Regions from separate parts of the Homo sapiens genome. Here region 1 is linked to region 2. The links come from fine-mapping of genetic effects on plasma protein levels. Region 2 holds a variant in brackets. A gene starts in the other region. All regions are shown on their forward strands. Region 1 holds the start of GKN1 (gastrokine 1). Region 2 overlaps MUC5AC (mucin 5AC, oligomeric mucus/gel-forming).

What was found. PIP is the chance, under the fine-mapping model, that this variant and not a neighbour inherited with it causes the effect. Protein levels are from antibody-based Olink assays in UK Biobank. Linkage for the fine-mapping came from a reference panel and not from the study's own genotypes, which makes the PIPs less certain.
Region 1: it holds the start of GKN1, and the variant in region 2 is fine-mapped to the plasma level of the GKN1 protein (UK Biobank, PIP above 0.99).

What each region holds. Positions count from the first base shown.
Region 1 is chr2:68,969,741-68,978,067 of GRCh38, forward strand. It overlaps GKN1 (gastrokine 1), which reads left to right and starts at 4,896. Exons shown (of 6, transcript NM_019617.4): 1 at 4,896-4,949; 2 at 7,755-7,808; 3 at 7,897-8,034. The coding sequence starts at 4,938. RefSeq lists a silencer at 2,386-2,618.
Region 2 is chr11:1,195,663-1,203,989 of GRCh38, forward strand. MUC5AC (mucin 5AC, oligomeric mucus/gel-forming) reads left to right here. Exons shown (of 49, transcript NM_001304359.2): 37 at 214-392; 38 at 726-813; 39 at 955-1,058; 40 at 1,215-1,246; 41 at 1,806-1,977; 42 at 2,241-2,342; 43 at 2,606-2,643; 44 at 3,212-3,334; 45 at 3,425-3,523; 46 at 3,709-3,828; 47 at 4,033-4,102; 48 at 4,193-4,307; 49 at 4,776-5,476. The coding sequence ends at 5,040. Among named protein-coding and RNA genes, the nearest start is that of MUC5B, 23 kb to the right of the region's middle. RefSeq lists enhancers at 6,765-7,272, 7,273-7,779. The variant T/C (reference allele first, on the strand shown) is at 4,376.

The DNA of each region.
Region 1 (8,327 bases), not on the chromosome of region 2:
AGAACTTTCCTGGCATGGATGAGAGGTTTTTATTCAAATCCAGTGGGACCTCTGAAGGAAAAGCACACTCCAGAATGAATCCTGATGGATACGTTTTATTAAGCATTTCCAGGAATTACAGACTAGGAATGTAGGTAGGGAGAGAGCATAATTGAATAAACATGGAAACTCAAAATTCTCTGAGGCACCCTTGAGGATCCAATGTCACCATCTGAAGATGTGTTCTTTCAGAAGTGAAAAGATTGCATATGTGTGTATTGTGTTCTATGTAAGACATAGAAAAGGAAACCAATTCTGACCGGTCACCCTACAGAAAACTCGATGATTTACAAAACTGTGCTTCATTGTTCACTGGCCTTAGGGCAAGTCCTTTACTTTGGCCTCTTCTGCCAGGGAAGCCATGGTGTGGTGGCCTGGGGTCCTCGCAAGGCCCTGGCTCTAGGCACCGCTCTGCCAGCGCTAGCACTTTGGTTCCAACCATTTGGGATCTTATTCTCATCTTTTAATAAGCAGTTTAGTCATTTCCCAGCCTGACTGCTGTTATTTAATTAACACACCATCAGTATGAGTGCTTTTACAACATTATCTCTAAACCGCTTCAATTTGAACACTGAACAAAGTATAGTGTTATTATTTCTGGATTAGCCAGGACATAATTATAAAGCAACATGTTGCTATCACTTTATGATTTCTATTCCTCATATGGGCATACTTTCTTTAAATCTTTTTCAGAACGAATTGTTTAACCAGGCTTGATTGTCCTTCACGATGATAAACATGAAGTTATTGGTCAGCGTTGTCTTTACCTCTACTTTCATATATTTCATACACATGATGCAATTACTCAGGAGATCTTCTTTTTGCAAGATTTTTCCAAACCCCATTTATATTACTCTATCACTCAAGGTAACAACTAATCTTAGGCATAATATATCACTGCCTGCCTCTGAGGGGATCCAGAAGTTTTGGCAAACGCAATTGAACAGACATACAAACAGCCAGAGAAAGCCAGAGTTATATGTATTTTGGAAGGCAACGGTCCCAGAGGAAACAACAAAAATATCTGCTCAGTAATGCAAAGTGCTCCCTCCACTCTGCTGTAACTCGAAAAGAATTTCTCCCCTATATAAAAATAATTATGTATTAAGTTTGGATTTTCTGGAACTTGAAGCTCCTCTAGCAATAACTATTAAAACGTTATTTTACATGTTTCTATCGCTATTTTTTAGACGTGTCATTCCTAGCCATAAGTACATATGGAGGCTTTGATAAGGGTGTGTCACTGCTGCAAGCACCAAGGCTGTAGTCACCGGAACCATCATGAGAGTCTTAGCTACAGGCTGGGAAATCAAGACCAGAGAGGGGCAGAAATTTCTCCACAGCGAAGTGTATTCAGACCTCATAATGAACCACTTGACTGGGGACCATCAAAAGGACCATCAGACTGGTGTGCAGTTTGCTCAGAAAGACAAAAGTAAAGGCAAGGAGACTGAAATAGAGTCTGCATGAAGGGACTTCCACACTCAAACAAATAAATTATCATTTGCAGGCAAATGGACTAAGGCCAGTTGAGTCCTAACTATCAGAAAATGGAGAGCAAGAATGAAAAGGAAGCCAAGGTTACTAAGGGCTTCATAGGTATTAATAACCTCTAGGTCAGCCCATTAACAGGTCTGTGCAGAGACGGAATCTTGAATGAGAATATTTAATGATTAAAATGTACCCTATAGGCAAACATTCCCTTCCACTCAGAGAACAAGAAGGAATGTGAAAAGTCTGATTTCTGTGGGAAAGCACTTTGGTTCCAACCATTTGGGATCTGATTGACATCTTTAAATGAGCAGTTTAGTCCTTTGCAGGCCTCCCTCCAGTTGCACACAGGAGCATATTGCACATGGGATGCATCCCGTCTGCTCCACACGGAGGGAGTTTCCACTGAGCACAACACAGGGTGTGGAGTAGAATGAAGCCTTGGGTGTGTGTGCATTGTGAGATAAAATGACGATAGGGGCTTGTTTCTTGGCATGGCCCAGCATCAATCTCTGTAGGCAGGGCAGGCTCTATTTACCCATGGGCTGATTTGTTCCACACTAACCCCAAGCCACAGAGGTCACACCATCAACTGAGACTCCCTCAATGTGTCATCACAGCCAGTGTAGGGCAGCCCCTCTCAGGCTGGCACCAAAACCAGAAATGACTAAATATAACGCACTTTTTATCCTGTAGCTTAACATCTCCTTTACGCAAGTAAAATTTTTACAAGGGGCCTACTGAGCACCATATATGTGTCTGCATATTTTAGATTCTATGGAGGTGACCAAAAACATTGGTATGTTCTGTCTTCCTGGGAAGACATTCTTCTTCAAGGGAAGAATGAAACATAAAACACAGTTCTCAGGGCAAAAGTCTTGCTCATGCTTCATTAGGACTTTTGGCCTTGGATGAGACCAGGATTGAGGTGAGGGTTGACCCCCACCTTGACCCCCACACTCCCTCTCCCCCAACCTCCCACACCACACAAAGTACAGAAAAAGAAGTTTTTCTGGTTGTAGAGCCATTGAAGTAACAAATATTGTATAAAGGAGGAATTTCTTCTCTTTTACCCACAAGAAACCTAAGGCCTAAACCAAAAAAATAAATGACTCATTGAAAGATGGGAAAATAGAATCTAGGTCTCCTGGCTCCCAGCTTCATCCAGTAGCTCCCCAAATGGGTTTTCAAATCCAGGGTGCATCCTCAGAGGTGGCACAATTTTTTCACTAAGGCAGGGGTCCCCAGAGTTGTTATGAGATGTTAGGACAAATAAATAAAAGAAAAAGGGAAAACGATCAGGTTCTGTAGTCAACTAAGATGAGAAGAACCTGGATGAAACAGAGATTTTTCCCCTATAAATTTCTTAGCCCATTTGATGTGTGAATGTGAATTGTCAGTCTCTAAAGGGGGGATTATTGGACCCGGAACTCTACCTATGTATCTATGTATGTGTGTGTATCTATGTGTGTATACGTGTGTATGTATGTATGTATGTATGTATGTATGTATCTATCTATCTATCTATCTATCTATCTATCTATCTATCTGTCTGTCTGTCTGTCATGGAACATCTTCCAGACCAGCATTTCACAGGTCCACTGCAGAACTTCAGGCCCTTGTCCTTGGTATGACATGCAAAATGTGTGCTGGGCACTGCACCTGTGTACCAAGATGACTACTGGTGGCTGAGTTTAAACGTAGAGACCATGCTACCCACTCATTGACTTCTCAGTGACATGAAGTTTCCTAAAGCAGATGAAGGCCTCTTCACACATGTCTGCCCCTTACTCCAGGCTTATTACCTTCTGTGGATAAAGAGTGAGTTTGAAAGAAATCAGTGGACACATTAAAAAATATCCAGTAATACTGCAGCTGTTCTAATCCACTCCTACCAACAGTTTTGAAGAGATGTTGATAGCGAATCAAGCTTTATAACCATGTGATCCCATCTTATGGTTTCAATCCATGCACAGGAGGAAAATTGTGGGCACGAAGTTTCCAAAGGGAAAATTTATAGATTGGTAGTTAATGAAATACAGTTTTCCTCCTTGGCAAATTTAATTTACTAGCTTCACTGTATAGGAAAAAGCAGGAAAAAAATTAAAACCAACTCACCTCCAAACCTGTTTTGAGCTTTTACTTGTCTGCCCAATTGATAGTTTCTACTCTCTGCTTTTGATGAAAATATTTTTTATTATTTTAATGTAACTTCTGAAAACTAAATTATCTAGAAGCAAATAAAAAGATATTGCTTTTATAGTTCCCAGAAGGAAAAAACAAACACTAGGAAAGTTCTATCTATCAGATGGGGGAGATGTGATGGAGGCAGTGATATTTGAGCTGAGCCTTGAACAATGAACAGGAGTCTACCAAGCGAGAGGCTAGCGGGTGGCCCTCCAAGATAAAACAACAGCATGTACAAAGGCATGGAGACATACACATCTTGACTTTTCCAGGAATGGTGGGAACGCTGGTGGAGCTAGAATGTAGGTACATAGCATAAAGTGGCAGACGGGAAGCCTTTGGAAATCTTATTACATAGGACCCTGGATGCCATTCCAATGACTTTGAATTTTCTGTAGGCTGCCAGCGAAATTTCCAAGCGTGATAGAGTCATGTCTATCTATGCACTTCAGAAAGACAACCTCAGGGTTAATGAAGAAAATGCATTGGAATATAAGAAACTGGTGACCAGAGTGATCAATTGCATGACTGTTGTGAAAGTCCAGGTGAGGGGAGCTGTGGGCAAGGTCAGAGTTGAGAGGCATTTCAGAGATAAAATGACAGTAACTAAGTAGATGTCAGACTGAGAAGAAAGGGCTGTACCAGATATATGGTGCTATCATTAAGTGAGCTCAACATTGCAGAAAAGGGGTAGGTTTGGTGGGAGTTGCTCACAAAACATGTTTAGTCTAAGCAAAACCATTGCCATGGGCTCAGATAAAAGTTAAGAAGTGGAAACCATTCCTACATTCCTATAGGAGCTGCTATCTGGAAGGCCTAGTATACACGTGGCTTTTCAGCTGTGATTTTGTTTGATTTTAGGGATTATTCTTTTTCTGAATCTGAGCAATGTTAGCGTGTAAAATACTCACGCCCACAGCTTTGACTGGGTGAGAAGTTATCATAAATCATATTGAGTTTGTTGTGATACCTTCAGCTTCAACAAGTGATGAGTCAGGTCAACTCCATGTGAAAGTTCCTTGCTAAGCATGCAGATATTCTGAAAGGTTTCCTGGTACACTGGCTCATGGCACAGATAGGAGAAATTGAGGAAGGTAAGTCTTTGACCCCACCTGATAACACCTAGTTTGAGTCAACCTGGTTAAGTACAAATATGAGAAGGCTTCTCATTCAGGTCCATGCTTGCCTACTCCTCTGTCCACTGCTTTCGTGAAGACAAGATGAAGTTCACAGTGAGTAGATTTTTCCTTTTGAATTTACCACCAAATGATTGGAGACTGTCAATATTCTGAGATTTAGGAGGTCTGCTTCTTATGGCCCCATCATGGAAAATTTGTTTTAAAAAAATTCTCTCTTCAAACACATGGACACAGAGAGGGGAACAACACACACTAGGTCCTGTTGGGGGGTGGAGAGTGAGGGGAGGGAACTTAGAGGACAGGTCAATAGGGGCAGCAAACCACCATGGCACACATATACCTATGTAACAAACCTGCACGTTCTGCACATGTATCCCTTTTTTTTAGAAGAAGAAATAATGAAAAAAAATCTTTTTTCTATTTATATAATCATGGCATTTATAAGCATCTCTATAGAGAAGGATAATTGTGCTGAGATTAGACAGCTGTCTGAGCACCTCACACTGACCTATTTTTAACAAAATGACTTTCCGCATCACCTGATTCCGGTCTCCATGCAGGGTAAGCAGTTCCTAAGCCCTAGAAAGTGCCGATCATCCCTCATTCTTGAATTCCTCCTTTTATTTACCAAAATTCCTGAGCATGTTCAGGAAAGATGAAAAGCTTATTATCAAAATAAGTGGCTGAGATAGACTTCTTGTCACATTTGTTACAGTAAAATGGGTCTCCAAGAAAGAAAGATTTGCCTTGGGCTCTAGCATGGCCATTTATTTAAGAAAGCATCTGAAACATGAAGCTACCACAGCATCTCTCCTGTGGTTCCAGACAGAAGCCTGAGAGTCTAGGAGGAGGTGGACCGAGAAACCCTGCCAAAGTAACTAGTAGTGCCGGGTTTCTCACAACACGATGCAAAGGGGCTAGAATCAGATGACTATTTTCATGTTTCAACATACTACACACTGGAAAACGTTACGGCAGACTCTACTTTATAATGGGGCTGCAAATGTAAAATGACTACCTAGAACTAGGTCCTCTTAATAGCAGCAAAGTTTAAAAGGGTCAGAGGGAGCTCCAGACACAGGTTAGATTTGATTTCTCTCCTAGTTCTGCTGTGAACAAGAGGTATAAGTTTGGCCAACTCACTTAACCCCTGAAGCTCAGTTACCTTATCTGTAAAATGATTGCATTGTACTAGGTGTTCTCTAAAATTTCTTCTACCTCTGACTTTTTAGGAGACTAATTTTTAACTCCTTTTTAAGCTATTGGGAGAAAAATTTAATTTTTTTTCAAAAGTTACCTTGAATCTCTAGAGCAGTTCTCAAAACTATTTTGTCCCAGGCAAAGGAAATGAGACTAGGTACCCAGAATGAGGCACCCTGCATAAAGCTCTGTGCTCTGAAAACCAATGTCAGGGACCCTGTGATAAATAATTAAACCAAGTATCCTGGGACACTGCTAGTGACATCGCCTCTGCTGATCACTCTTGCCAGCGAGACACTCTATACTTGCTTTCTCATCATTGGCATCCAAACTGCCTACTAATCCATTGCTTTGGAAAGTTTTTTTTAATAAAAAGATTATTTCTATTAGGAAGAAAACATCCCATGTTAAATAGGAAAATTAACTGAAATCATTTTCAGATGTGATTTTTAGCACTTATAGCCATCTCAAACCATAGTATTCATTTATACTATGCTATTTATTGTAAAACTTCTTTTTTTTTCCAAGGAAAATAAGATAGTTTGCTTTATTTTAAAACAGTAACTTTCTTATATTGGGGCACTGACCAAAATTCAATACTGGTACAAATATGTTACCTAGGAGGTCAAAATATGTGCCAGGTGAATTTTCTGAATTTCTCTAAAGAGAGAATTTTAAACCTTATAAAACAATTAGAAACAAGTGAGTGAGAGGTGAGCATCAACAACCTGTGTAACATAAGCCACAGTACAAATTTAAGCTGAATAACCAAGCCATGTCAGTTATCCCAAATCATTTTTGTTAATATTTAGGAGGATACACATATTTTCAATAACTTAAAAGTGAATCTTTACTCCTATCTCTTAATACTCGAAGAAGTATAACTTTCTTCTTTTACTAGATTTAAATAATCCAAATATCTACTCAAGGTAGGATGCTGTCATTAACTATAGCTGAGTTTATCCAAAATAGAAAAATCATGAAGATTTATAAAGCATTTTAAAAATAATCATTTATAGCAAGTCCTTGAAAGCTCTAAATAAGAAAGGCAGTTCTCTACTTTCTAATAACACCTATGGTTTATATTACATAATATAATTCAACAAAACAGCATTCTGACCAATGATAATTTATAGGAAATTCATTTGCCAAGTATATGTTTTATTATAAAGTTAATATTTTGACCAATCTTAAAAATTTTTAAACTCTATTCTGACATTTCCAGAAGTATTATCTTAGCAAAGTCATCTTTATGATACCACTTATTAAACTGAAGAGAAACAAGATGGTACATTCTGGGTTTTACTTTAAAAGGGATTTGATTCAATAATTTGATTTATCACTACTTGAAAATTACATTTTCTTCCTCAGTACTGGATGGCAATGAGATGAAAGCAGCTTTCCTGGCTCTCAACTTCCCTTCTTCATCAATTTTTCCAGCGTTTCATAAGGCCTACACTAAAAATTCTAAAACTATATATCACATTAATATAATTACTTATAATTAATCAGCAATTTCACATTATCGTTAAAACCTTTATGGTTAAAAAATGCAAGGTAAGAGAAGAAAAAAACACATTGAACTAGAACTGAACACATTGGTAAAATTAGTGAATACTTTTCATAAGCTTGGATAGAGGAAGAAAGAAGACATCATTTTGCCATGTAACAGGAGACCAATGTTATTTGTGATTTCAGATTGTCTTTGCTGGACTTCTTGGAGTCTTTCTAGCTCCTGCCCTAGCTAACTATGTAAGTCTCACCTTTTCAAGTTTGCTACCAAAATGCATTTGCAAGGAAATGTGATATTAAATCACTCTCAATCTCTTATAAACTTCAGAATATCAACGTCAATGATGACAACAACAATGCTGGAAGTGGGCAGCAGTCAGTGAGTGTCAACAATGAACACAATGTGGCCAATGTTGACAATAACAACGGATGGGACTCCTGGAATTCCATCTGGGATTATGGAAATGTAGGTAGTCAACGTGCAATTTTCACTTTATTGTTTAAAAATACGATTTCTTTTTAACAAAAAATGTGCATGTTAACCATAAAGAAATTAAAAATAAATTCTAATTACACATAGCATACAGTTATAAGTAAAGGTGACCATTTTGCTCATCCGATTTTGTTCCCTAGAGATAACTACTGTTAATAAGTGTTGCATGATCAGTTAAAATTCAAACCAACAAACACTATGTTCAAGGGATTGTGGGTATATACAACAAATATGAACATCCTTTTGCCTTGCCTGCAGATACCCTC
Region 2 (8,327 bases):
ATGGATGATGCCATCTGGACCCCCACCCCCCGCCCCCAAGCACACAGAATGTGTGGAAGGAGCCCGTCCGGGGATACAGGAGGGCGGCCACACACCAGTGGCTGCTCTGGGACTCGCCTCGCCTGGAGACTGCCCTGAAGCCTGGGAGCCTGACGTGGAGCAGGCAGGTGGCCGGAGAGGCTGCACCCAGCACCCTGCCCATCCCTCCCACAGGGTCTTTGAGCCGTGCCACACTGTGATCCCCCCACTGCTGTTCTATGAGGGCTGCGTCTTTGACCGGTGCCACATGACGGACCTGGATGTGGTGTGCTCCAGCCTGGAGCTGTACGCGGCACTCTGTGCGTCCCACGACATCTGCATCGATTGGAGAGGCCGGACCGGCCACATGTGCCGTGAGTGCCACCACTGTCCTCAGGGTCCCAAGTCGCTTGTGAGGGGCACAGGCACGCCGGACGGACCAACAGGGTGGGCTCGGGCAGTCAGGGGGGGACCTGGAGGAGGAGGGGGCAGCCCCAGGGCAGAGTGCACCCAGTTCCCTGGAGAGAAGGGAGGGCGTCCACGTCTGGGAGCCCGTGGCGGGGCACTGGGGTGTGGGAGGCCGTAGCCAGGCCCAGGCCCACAGGTGGCTGCGGGCAGCTCCGGAGCAGATGTTGGTGCCCAGCGGCCCGCGTTGCTCTGGGTGGGTGCCCTCCCACCCTCTCAGGTGTGGCTTCCCCTCCCCACAGCATTCACCTGCCCAGCCGACAAGGTGTACCAGCCCTGCGGCCCGAGCAACCCCTCCTACTGCTACGGGAATGACAGCGCCAGCCTCGGGTAGGCACCCTCCCTCCTGGCCCTGCCATGGGCTGCTGGAGCCACCCAGTCCCCAGCCTCCCGCTGCATCTCCCACTCCCAGGCTGGGGTCCTTCTCACCGGAGGGAAAAAGGAGACCCACCAACCCTATGCTCTCTACAGGGCTCTGCCGGAGGCCGGCCCCATCACCGAAGGCTGCTTCTGTCCGGAGGGCATGACCCTCTTCAGCACCAGTGCCCAAGTCTGCGTGCCCACGGGCTGCCCCAGTACGTGCCCCAGGCCGGGGCTGGGGGGTGTGGCAGGACTGGGCCTGTGACTGTTGGCCAGGTCCTGGGGTCTACCCTGGCCCCAATATGGGACCCTGCCTCTCGCCCCTATTGTGGTGGCTGACCCCCAGTAACCTCAGATCTCTCTCCTTCCAGGGTGTCTGGGGCCCCACGGAGAGCCGGTGAAGGTGAGTGGAAGGCATGGCCCAAGAGGGCACTGGGGTCCAAGAGCCCGAGGAGGGAGGCTCTTGAAACACCGGCCCCAGAAATGGTCAGGTGGGGCTCAGGGGTCGGGGTGTCCTCTCTGTGTCAGAGGCCCAGAGAAAGGGCTGCGGGAGGAGCCGGGCTCCCAGAAAGACTCGGGATCTCCCTTCCCAGGTACCCACTCTGTCCGTATTGGGGACGGTGCCGGGGCGTCTGTCCTGGTGTTGCTCTGTGGGTGGGTGCTGGCCCCGAGGCTGGCTGTGCTCTTCCCTTCCTTGGGACGCCCCTTCTGCCCAGCCAAGACTGTGGAGGTGTGAGGTGGGGGGCGCAGGCCAGTCACCCCACAGCCTGCCCACCTTGCAGAGCTTTGTGCCCATCCCTGGGCCCTACCCTGCACTTTTGAAGCCCTACTCCTGCTGGGTCCTCAGTGCAGGCCACACGGCCTCCACACCTGGCTGCCCCGGCACTGCATGAGCCGGGGTGGCTGCTGCACCCCTGGGTGGAGCCGCTGCGGACGCTGGACCTCAGTCCCCTTCCTTGCAGGTGGGCCACACCGTCGGCATGGACTGCCAGGAGTGCACGTGTGAGGCGGCCACGTGGACGCTGACCTGCCGACCCAAGCTCTGCCCGCTGCCCCCTGCCTGCCCCCTGCCCGGCTTCGTGCCTGTGCCTGCAGCCCCACAGGCCGGCCAGTGCTGCCCCCAGTACAGCTGCGGTAAGCCCTTTGCTGGGTGAGGGGCATGGTGTGGCAGGCAGGTGACCCGGAGCCCACTCGGCCCGGACTTTGCTGCTGCCTTGGGGCGTGCACCTGGGGACAGTGCCTACGAGGGCGTCCCCTCCTCCGCTTCCGCAACAGCCTCATCTGGAGACCCCCGAGCGGGCTGTCTAGGCGGTCCGCAATCCTAGAGACCCCAGGGGGTGGGCCTTCGGGTGGGGGCGGGGGACAGACTCCTAATTGCCTCACTCCCGCCCCCGCAGCCTGCAACACCAGCCGCTGCCCCGCGCCCGTGGGCTGTCCTGAGGGCGCCCGCGCGATCCCGACCTACCAGGAGGGGGCCTGCTGCCCAGTCCAAAACTGCAGTGAGTGGCCTGGACCAGGCCCTGTCAGGGGCCGTGGGCTGGGGTCTCCACCTGGGATTTTGGGGGGCCATAACCAGATGCCAGTGCGGCTTGTCCACTGCGGGTCTGTGGCTCTGGACTGAGCCTTCCGCAGAGATGAGGCTGGACAAACCCCAGTGGCGAGCCCGGGAATGAGGCGCCCAGGAGGCTGCAGGGGCGGGAATGCTGAGGGTGAGGGGAGAGTGGGCGGCGGGGGGTGCAGCTGCTTGTCTTCTCGTGGGCAGGCTGGACAGTGTGCAGCATCAACGGGACCCTGTACCAGGTAAGAGCCACGGAGCTCAGACCCCCTCAGCCATAGGGACGGAGCTTCCCACTGACCCTGAGGCCCAGGTAGACTTTGGAGCAACTGCCAACTCCGGCCGAGGCCAGGGACTCGAGTCTCTGCAGACACAGCCCACTATCAAGTGTGGCTGAGGCCCGAGGTCGGCCCCAGGTCCCGGAAATATGGACATCTACACCCTGGCCTGCCTGGCTCCGGGGGGCTCCGGGGGACTTTGCCTCTCCTGGCACCACAGCACAGCCAGGCCTGGATCCCACGGCTCTGTCCTGAGCCGGCTGAGTATGTGGCCCTGCAGAGTGTGTGGCCTTGTTGGGCACCCCATCCAAGGGGGTGCAGCGTGGGGCTCTGCTCTAGGGATGGGGACCCTGGGCTGTGGCCTCTGCACCAAGAGGTGCCACCACGAGTCACCCCAGGGGTGCAACTCGGCCTGGTAGGAAGCGGCCTGGAGGGGGATGTCTGGGAAGTTGGGGGCAGCAAGCCAGTGGGGAGGCAGGGGCGGGTCTCCCCAGGGCCCAAGCTCATGAGTGTCTGCTGCCCTGGCTCTCCCCAGCCCGGCGCCGTGGTCTCCTCGAGCCTGTGCGAAACCTGCAGGTGTGAGCTGCCGGGTGGCCCCCCATCGGACGCGTTTGTGGTCAGCTGTGAGACCCAGATCTGCAACACACACTGCCCTGTGGTGAGCGCTCCCACCCTGCCCCGACCCTGCCCTGGCTCTTGGGGGGCAGCGGTCGCCTGGATTCCAGCCACATGTCCATCCCTCCCGCAGGGCTTCGAGTACCAGGAGCAGAGCGGGCAGTGCTGTGGCACCTGTGTGCAGGTCGCCTGTGTCACCAACACCAGCAAGAGCCCCGCCCACCTCTTCTACGTGAGTAGTGGCTGCCACAAAGAGGAAGGGCAGGGTCTGGGAGCACTGGGGCATGTGGGGACCTGTCGTTGCCAGGCATGCGTCTGGCAGAGGCTGGGGACTCTCTGGAAGCCCACGGGCTGGGGTGCAGACAGAGGGACAGACGGAGGGAGGGTCACTCACCCCGGGGCCTGGCCTCCCTCCAGCCCGGCGAGACCTGGTCAGACGCAGGGAACCACTGTGTGACCCACCAGTGTGAGAAGCACCAGGATGGGCTCGTGGTGGTCACCACGAAGAAGGCGTGCCCCCCGCTCAGCTGTTCTCTGGTGAGGTCCAGGATCCCCGCTCCAGCCAAGGGGGGCTTCACCCCTAGATGGGTTTGGGGGGCTGTGATCATCCCTGCAGCGCCAGCAGACACCCCCTCCTGCTTGGGGCTGTCCACTCCTGAGCCTGGCCCCATGTCCCCATCCCTCACTTCTGTGGGGGCCGCCGAGCGCCTCGGCACTGAGGGCGCCCCTCTGTCGGCACAGGACGAGGCCCGCATGAGCAAGGACGGCTGCTGCCGCTTCTGCCCGCCGCCCCCGCCCCCGTACCAGAACCGTGAGTACCCAGCCTGCTGGGCGGGGCGGGCTCCACCCTCAGAGGTCTAGGAGCAGCTGGGCTGGTCCTAAACCCTGTGTTCCTCTCCAGAGTCGACCTGTGCTGTGTACCATAGGAGCCTGATCATCCAGCAGCAGGGCTGCAGCTCCTCGGAGCCCGTGCGCCTGGCTTACTGCCGGGGGAACTGTGGGGACAGCTCTTCCATGTACGTGCCTGGGCAGCAGGCAGGGAGACGCGATTGGCTGTGGGGTGCAGTCAGGGCCCCCAGGGCTC[T/C]AGGTGCCAGATAGACGAGGGGCAGGACCATGAGGGGCCAGGCAAAGGGCTCTGAGGGTGAGGCGGGAAAGGGGTCCTGAGATGGCAAGGGTGGGGCTGGGGTAACTACATCCCCAGAGCCTGTGTCGGCATCACGCTCTCCTGTTTACTGAGCTCCGCCAGGAACTTGCCGCAGCCGCCCCGAGTCTCCCTCCCTCCCATCAGCACGGAGCCGGGGTCGGCCCTGGTGGGACTGTTGGCGCCTGGGGAACTGGCAAAGGAGAGCTGGTTGTCAGACACTGGCAGCATGCCTCCAGGAGCAGGGAACACGATGAGGCCGCCCAGAGCTCGGCACGGCGCCGGCTTACGGCAGGAGGCTGGGGTGGCGCAGCAGCTGGTGCTGAGCAGCCCCTGCCCACAGGTACTCGCTCGAGGGCAACACGGTGGAGCACAGGTGCCAGTGCTGCCAGGAGCTGCGGACCTCGCTGAGGAATGTGACCCTGCACTGCACCGACGGCTCCAGCCGGGCCTTCAGCTACACCGAGGTGGAAGAGTGCGGCTGCATGGGCCGGCGGTGCCCTGCGCCGGGCGACACCCAGCACTCGGAGGAGGCGGAACCCGAGCCCAGCCAGGAGGCAGAGAGTGGGAGCTGGGAGAGAGGCGTCCCAGTGTCCCCCATGCACTGACCAGCACTGCCGCCCTCCTGACCTCCAAGGAGAACCTCCCATATGTCCTCTGAGCTCGGCTTCCAAGGCCAGTGGAACTTGTGCCCCTGTCCAGGCGGCTGCAGCTTTGAACACACTGTCCACGCCCGCTTTCTTGTGGAGGGTGTGGGCTATGGGTCACCTGCTGCCTGGAGGAGGGGCCCTTACCCACCCCGCCTGCAGCCACCTCTCAGGACCAGCCCCGGGGCTGGCCGAGCTCCTCTGGCCATGCATCCAGCCTGCTGTTCTGGGGACGTGAGCATCACCTGAGGGTCTCAGGAATGACGCTTGGACATGGTGATCAGCTGCCTGGTGGCTGCAGGAGGAAGAACCTCACTCCTACCTCAGCCCTCAGCCTGCGCTCCCCTCCTCAGTACACGGCCAATCTGTTGCATAAATACACTTGAGCATTTTGCAATTTGTGGACTGTGCATTTTTTGAGATTGTTCATAAAATCCAGGAATAGGGTGGGGGCAAACCCGGGCCCTGTGGGGTGCACACCTCAGGCCAGCCACCCAGTACTGGGCAGCCCTGCTGCTTCTGTGGGCTGGCTGGGACAGTGTCTCTCTGCTCAGAGAGGAGAGGCCAGAGCTTGGATCTGCCCCAAGAAGAGACCACCACCCTGCAGAGGTCTTTGAGGGCTTGGCTGCAGTCTAGAGTCCAGGATGCATCTGTTCAGAACACAGAGAGTGAGTGAATGAGAGTGAGAGAATGAATGAGTGAATAAATGGGTGAGTGAATAAGTGAGTGCATGAGTGAGTGAATGAATAAGTGAATGTGTGAGTGAGTGCATGTGAGTGAGTGAATGTGAGTGAATGAATGTGAGTGAATAAGTGAGTGACTGAGTGAATGAGTGAATGAATGAGTGAATGAGTGAGCAAATAAGTGAATGAGTGAGTGAATAAGTGAATGCATGAGTGAATGAATAAGTGAATGTGTGAGTGAATGAGTGCATGTGAGTGAATAAGTGAGTGCATGAGTGAGTGAATAAGTGAATGTGTGAGTGAATGAGTGCATGTGAGTGAATAAGTATGTGAGTGAGAGATTGAGTGAATGAGTGAATGAATGAGTGAATGAGTGAGCAAGTGAGTGAATAAATGAATGAGTAAATGAGTGGGTGAATGAACAAGTGAATGAGTGAATGAGTGAATGAGTGAGCAAATGAGTGAGTGAATAAATGAATGAGTAAATGAGTGGGTGAATGAACAAGTGAATGAGTGAGTGAGCGAATGGGTAAGTGAATGAGCGAATGAGTGAGAGAATGAGTGAATGAGTGAATAAGTGAATGAGTGAATGAGTGAGTGAATGAGTGAATGAGCGAGTGAATGAGTGAGTGAATAAGTGAATGAGTGAGTGAATGAGTGAATGAGTGATGAATGAATGCGTGAGGGAGGGAGTCAGCAGGGAATGGGACCAGCCCAGGCATCCAGGGCACCTCATGGCCCAGGCAAGGGCCTCTGACATGGGAGGGCTGCCCCTGGTGATGGAGGCGTTCTGGGATGGGGGGTTCCAGCTCTGTGCAGCTCCTAGACTCGCCGTTACTGGGGCTGAGCTTGGGCTGTGCACACTCCTGAGTGTATCTGCAGGCAAGCGGGAGGTCGGCAACCCCACGGAGCGTCTGCTGGATGCTCTGCAGAGGGTGGGCTGGGCCCTGGAAGCTTGTCACTCTCTTAGTCCTCTCTGACCACCGCCACCCCTCCCCGGAGCCTCCATGTTCCTGATGCCCAGTGTTCTCCTCTTGGAGGGCTCCAGGGAGTCTGCAGATTCCCTTGGACACACCGGCCTCGGGCTGGGCCCTGCCTCAGCCACATAGCAGCACCAGTAGAGTGGGCGGCACTGACCCGGCATCCCAGGAGTGGGCAGAGGGGTCTGGAGGAGCCCAGGCTGAGCCGGGTGGGGCTGGGGAGCCCACTGCCTAGACAGGGCCAGCGCAGGGCGGGGGAAAGACAGGGAGGGCTGTGGTCGGCCCTGGCCAGGCCTGTGGCCCACACAGGAAGGCCCAGGAACATCTGGAGCCCCCCACGCCTGATGGTGGGACAGGTGGGTGGGAAGCTGCGCCCAGAGTGGAGGCGGTGACGTGGCAGGCACCAGCTCCCTGGTGACTTTCTGGGGCTCAGGGTCCTGCCCGGGCCTCCCACAGCTTCAGGTGGCCCCAGTGTCCCTCTGGGCCAGAGAGGGTCTCAGGGACCTGTGTACCCTGGGCGTGGTGTGGAGTAGCTGAGGGGCCGGCAGGGGGATTCTCCATCAGCAAGGTGGACGTAGGGGCCCAGCCTCATGTGCCTGTCTGGGTGGGCGCTTTTCCCAGCCCTCCTGGACTTCGGCCGCGCCCATTGCTCCAACCTCCCCCAGCCTCCTTTTCAGGTGCCAGGCCCGGCGGGGTGGGGTCTGGGGAACCGACCTTCCATTCTCAGGCGTGCAGCCGCGCTCCCTGCAGCTGCCACGAGGTGGCAGCACAGTCAGGCCCGGCACCCGTCGGCTCAGGCCTGGGCTCCAGGCACCGCAGAGCCAGGGGAGTCCCGGGTCTCAGCCCACATCCCTCACGGCCTGCCCATGGCCCTGGGAGGCTGAGGACACCCCTCACGGCTTACAGGCACATGGCAGCCTGGAGGGCTTGGGCTGGGCCGGAGGGCCGCGGCCCCTCCCGCTACTGTGTGCCTGGCCCTGTGAGGAGGCCCGGCCAGTCCCAGAGTCCCTCTTGCCCTCAAGCCACGTCTGCAGGCACTGGGAGGTCAGAAGGCAAGGCCGGCCCAGTCCCTGCACCAGGATTTTTGACCCAATGGCAGGCAGTGAGGCCTCCGTGGCTCCAGCGTTGGCTCACATCTGGGGGTTGCTTTGACAGGTCTCAGGGCTGGGGTGCCCAGGACCCCCCAGGTCCAGTTCTCCAACTGCCTGCCCACCCTGGCCCACTGTGTGCTCCCAGACACCTGGGCAGTGGGGCTGCCTCCGAGCCTGACTGCTGGGGTGAGCAGGTGGGGCAGAGGAGGCTCCCCAGCCTCGACCCATGTCCTCTTGGCGGCCAGGCGGAAGCACAGCCCGGGAACTCCCGCTCTAAGACCCGTCGGCTCCAGCGCTCTGCTGACCACCTGACCTCACAGCCGCAGGGCACCCTAACCAGCACCAGTGTGCCCGGGGTGGATCAGGTATCCTAGAAAGCTGCCAATTCCTCTCAGGGTAGGGTGGGAACGGCTGACTAATCCCCCACCCCCTGGGGTGAGCTTGGCCCCACGGCCTCCTGCCCGGCGCTCCCTGCCTGGAACACGGCAGAGTGG